2 separate regions of the Homo sapiens genome follow, and region 1 is linked to region 2. The links come from fine-mapping of genetic effects on gene expression. Tissue or cell type: liver. Region 2 holds a variant in brackets; the other region holds the start of a gene. All regions are shown on one strand. Distances are between the middles of the regions.

Evidence for each region. PIP is the estimated chance that this variant, and not a neighbour inherited with it, causes the effect.
Region 1: it holds the start of LECT2, and the variant in region 2 is fine-mapped to the expression of LECT2 in liver (GTEx, PIP above 0.99). The same link has a PIP of 0.9 or more in caudate.

What each region holds. Positions count from the first base shown.
Region 1 is chr5:135,953,356-135,956,043 of GRCh38, reverse strand. It overlaps LECT2 (leukocyte cell derived chemotaxin 2), which reads left to right and starts at 1,061. Exons shown (of 4, transcript NM_002302.3): 1 at 1,061-1,256. The coding sequence starts at 1,211.
Region 2 is chr5:135,976,395-135,979,082 of GRCh38, reverse strand. No RefSeq gene overlaps it. Among named protein-coding and RNA genes, the nearest start is that of LECT2, 23 kb to the right of the region's middle. The variant A/T (reference allele first, on the strand shown) is at 1,139.

The DNA.
Region 1 (2,688 bases), 23 kb after region 2:
TCAGATTTTACATATTATAAATAGTATGATACTATATATATAATTCTAAAAATAGCTTTTTAATTCAACAGTATATCTAGAGATCTAGCTGTGTTAATACATGTAGATTGTCTTCATTTAAATTGTTATATTTTACTCTGTTGTATGACTGTATTATTCTGTTCTTGCATTGCTATAAAGAAATACCTGAGATTGGGTAATTTATAAAGAAAAGAGGTACAGAAAGCATGGTAGCTTCTTGGGACGTCTCAGGAAACTGAAAATCATGGCGGAAGGCAAAGGGCAAGCAGGCATGTCTTACACGGCTGAAGCAGGAGGAAGTGAGAACAGGGGAGGTGCTACACACTTTTAAACAACCGGATCTCACCATAACTCACTCACTCACTATCAGGACAACAGCACTAAGGGGATGATGCCAACCCATTCATGAGCACTCTAGCCCCATAATTCAATCACCTCTCACCAGGCCCCACCTCCAACACTGGGGATTACAATTGAACATGAGATTTGGGTGGGGACACAGATCCAAACCATATCAATGACTATATTATAATTAATCTTTTTTCCTTTATTGATGGATGCTTTTAATGGTGTTAACTTACCATTATCATAAACAAGAAAACATTTAAAAATCACATATTTAAGGTGAATACATGCAATTTTATTAAAATATTAAAGTTATTTGCAAATATTACACAGGTGAAATATAATTAAACTGAGAATTCAAAAACACCTAAGGGATATATTAAGGAATATGTTATGAAGGGCTACACATTATTAATGACCAATTTTCTTCTGAAATATGTGCTATCAAGGAAATAAAAGAAAGATCTACCAGCAGGCAGCACTAAATATTCCATCATTCGCACGAACATTCTCCTACAAGCCACAGCCCAGAAGACTGTCGATATGCACCTAGCCTTATCATTTTCTGTTAATATTTAGTCAGTATTTCCAATATAATTGGCTTCTTCTTCAGATCAAAGGCTTTTACATAGGCCCTACCTGCAAATCAAATAGCTATCCATGGAATATTAGAACTTGACTTGCTCCATCCTCTTAAACTTTTTGTGTCTCACACTAAAGAAATGAGAGATGCAGAATTCTAAGGCTAAATAGCTAGGAAGTATTCATTCAAACTTGAATATTCTTCAAAGAGAGTGTGGGGGCAACTCTAATCAGAGGAAGAAACTAAAGGAAGTAAAACCAGATGTTTTCCACCAAAGCCCTCCTTTTGGCTGGTCTGATTTCTACCGGTAAGTCGAAAGTGCAATTTTAGAATATTGATTAACTTTTAAAAACTGATTTCAGGGGAAGACTAAAAAGATTAAAAAGTCATTAATAGCATGATCACAACAAAGACTTGTGTATTTGGCTATTAAAAATGAAATAGGAATGACACATGGTCCTGAGGATGTTTTAAGTAATTTAAATGGAATGTTCCGGTTCTTTAATGAGGGAAACATAATAGTGGGTTGAGAAGACATTACAAAGCCTTTCAGTCTGAGTCTGGGTCTGGGACTTAACTAGAACAAAACTAGATAATAAAAAGTTGATATAAATATTTGATTCTGATTTTGATCAAAATCAAATTCTGATACAGATACTAATACAGAGACTGGTATGGATTAAGACAAAGGGATGGCTCCCTTAATACTCACCGAAGGAGGAAAAAGTGAATAAATTACTACACTGTCTGATATTTGCCTCAATTCCCAAGGATAAATATTAGTTGCCAAAGTGATGGGATTATATCTTGATCAAGGTGTTGATTTGGAGCTTGGCTCCAAGGCATAAAACTTTTGAAACCCACCTTTTAAAAGTATTTTAAAGAAGAGGCTTAATGGCCATATTCTGTAGGTTCTCTTCACAGGATAGGTATTAATGAAGAGTAAAATGTCTTTAAATAAAATCAATAGTCAAATTACCAGGCTCTCGCTTTTGCTTGTTTGTTTCAAAGTGCAAGGTTGAGTGTGCTCACTGTATCTCTCTGTGAATGTTAACACTGGAAATCCAGGACATTTAATTCCATTGAACATTTATTAAGTGCTTACTATAGTAAAGAAACAAATTGTGCCTGAAACAAAGTTTGCACCAAGTCTGCTGAGAAAGCAGCCCCTCCTCCACGTTTCATAATTTTTCATATAATTGGTTCTACTCCTTCTCCTACCTTCACCCCTAATCTCAGTCTAGGCTAAATTGGTTTGACATTTCAGATTATTTTTAAGAATCTCCCTCTTCCATGTTGGCAACTATGAGAGATTTATCTAGTGTTAAACAAACTTGGCTAGTACAGAGTTCGTTTCTCCTTTAATTCAAACATTTGCTTGGATTTGATTAGTGGAACTAACCATTTCAAAATTACAATTTCTAAAATTATTTTCTGAGCCATGCTATTTTATTATTTTTGCTTAATCTAAAAATAATGATCCCCATGGCAGATAATGAGCAAAGAAAAATAGAAAAGCACAACTTATACCATTTACTAATGGATCTGAAGCAAAGTATAATGATGGAGGCCAATGCTTATAAAGAAACACATTCAGCTGGGCGCAGTGGCTCACGCCTGTAATCCCTGCACTTTGGGAGGCTGAGGCAGGCAGATCACGAGGTCAAGAGATCAAGACCGTCCTGACCAACATGGTGAAACTCCGTCTCTACTAAAAATACAAAAATTAGCTGGGTGTG
Region 2 (2,688 bases):
TCTCCTGCCTCAGCCTCCAGAGTAGCTGGGATTACAGGTACCCGCCACCACACCCAGATAATTTTTGTATTTTTAATAGAGATGAGGTTTCACCATGTTGGCCAGGCTGGTCTCGAACTCCTGGCCTCAAGTGATCCACCCACCTCAGCGTCCCAAAATGCTGGGATTACAGGTGTGAGCCACTGCGCCTGGCCCACACTTTAAAATTTGGAGGCAAAGAGAGTCATCACGAGAAAATAATCTGTTTTTGAAGAATATCATAGACTTTTTTTTTTACAAATAATTTGTAAAATATTTTGGTTTATGCATTCATCTCACAAAAACATTATTTGTATAGAGGTGATTACGATGCAGTTACTAACACATCTATAGCTGCATACACTTTTAATAGTACATTTACATAATAGATGTGAAATAGAACATTTAGCTGGCTCCTATGAATATCAACATGAAGACAACTAGTGCGTAAGACTGATAAAAAAAACAAAAGCTAACATTCCTGAGGTACTTCCTATCAGGCAGGTTCTGTGCTAAGTGGTTTATATGCTTTATCTCACCCAATGGGAGATTCTACTATGGTCTCCAATTTCAGCAGAGGAAAGGGAGGTGTGGGAAGGGGATGTTACTTGCCCAAATCCTTGTGGCTCTTGAGAAGTGGAGCTGGGACTTGAGTCCAGGTCTGCTGGCTCCAGATCCTGTCTCTGTAGCACCAGATGGCACGGCCTCGGATTAAGTGAGACATACATGCTATGAGAGCTTCGTCCACTGCTTGACCCATACTGAGCAGCCAATAAAGGCTTACACAAAAGCAGACTAAGGCAGGCTGCAATCCACACCCCATCCACAGCACTGAAGGCTCCCAGAGCACAGTTAAGGTAATGAAAGGTGCTGGGAACCTCTGGTTGAGGGTCCCTTTTTGGTGCTACCTCTGCCTGTCAGTTATCTACGAGTTTCAACCCTGCCTAAGTCACTGAGGGGCTGGATGGCTACGGGACCAATCCCTTCTTTCTGGACTGGACTTTCTTCTGTAAAAGAAGAGGATTTGACTAGAACGATTCCTAAGCTTTCTCCCCGCTCTGAACTTCTACCACCCAAGTCATCTCTAAGCTTTTGCGTGTGAAAATTAGTCCAGAAGCCC[A/T]GGGAGGCCCGTACCCGCCCTGAACATGTAGGAAGGGATTAACCATCCTAATAAAAAAGACAGCAGTGCTCTATGAAGATCAGCATTTTCCACCAAGGATGAACTTTGTTTCAATGGCAACAGGCCATGGTGGCAAAACTGCAAACTTCTAGTGTGGGCATGACTCAAAACCAGAGGGCCAGGGCAGACCTTTAGAATAGCTGATGGAATCGAATTATTCCACCGACTTTCACAATCCTGGCCATTTCAGCCCCACATGCGTCAGTCAGGATTGGAAATTGACGCAGGCTGTGGGGCTCTGGAGTGCTGAGGCAGAAGCGCCGAAGTCCGCTCAGCGGCGCCCACTAGCGGAAGGCCACAGAGCGGCGGTGCAACGGGACGGCTCAGGGCTCCAACTGCTCTGCACTGTGAAGCTGCAAGTCCTCCCTTGCATCATCGCACAGGGAAACGGAGGGAGAAAGGCCACCAGCTCCTTAGAGGCAGAGTTGACCTCTTGGCGGCCATTATGGTCCATGAAGAAATTCCCTCTGTACAATACACTAATTTTTCTTCATCATAACCTAACACATAGTATTTATTTATTGCAAGATGCTGGTCACCGTATTAAAAGATAATACAAATTTATTCAATTTTTTAATCCAAGAAAATGTAAAACATCTGAAGAAAATCTTGGTTCTTTTGATTCTGTCATAGTTTAATAACTGTGCAAATGAATGCTTGGGATCCCTGCTCCCATGAATATTTTATTAGGGGCAAATGGTTTATAGAGATAATATTGGAAATAAGAATTATTTGACAGATATTTTAAACATTTCATGGGTGACTGGGACGCATATTGCAAATTCTCAAACATCAAAAATCTGACAAAGTTCACCAAATAGTCTCAAAATAAGTTTATGGTAGTAATGTCATTTATTTACTGGATAACTAACCAACACTTAAAAAAGTTAAGCATGTTTGGGTTAAAGTAGCGTTTGACCATGTTAGGGAAGCCCAGTTCTTATCCTTAGAGAGGTTGCATTCTCACAGGTAAATGAGATCTATACAAAGGATACAACATAAGACTATAATTCTGAAATAATTTAAGTGTCCTAGAAAAATGTTCTGAAGGAGTTCAGAGAAGGAGTGCAGAAAATCTAAAAACAAGTAGGAGAACCTCATGGAGTGAGTAGGACTTGAGTTGAAACTTAAAGGATGGGAAGGGCATTTAAGTAGAAGGGAAGGAAGAGAAGAGCGTGTTCGGGGTAGTCAAAACTCATAAGGACGTATGGTGATGATTGGTACAGGAAGGTGTTTCAGGAAAGAAAGTGGGTATTCAGAGCCCTCCTGCCATGGCTTACCTCATTTATGGCTTTAGCCTCTAAAACTTCTCCCTTGTTGTCAGTTGGCTTCTTTCTTGCCTTTTATTTATTTATTTGCCTCTTTTCTAGTCTAGAACTCATGGTCAAGCTTGCTGAACATGTGCTTTAGCGACCTTGCTACCTCCTTGTGCTGTGGCTCCTGGGCAGCCAAACACTAGAGGAGAGGGCGCTGGGAAGCCAGGCTGTGTG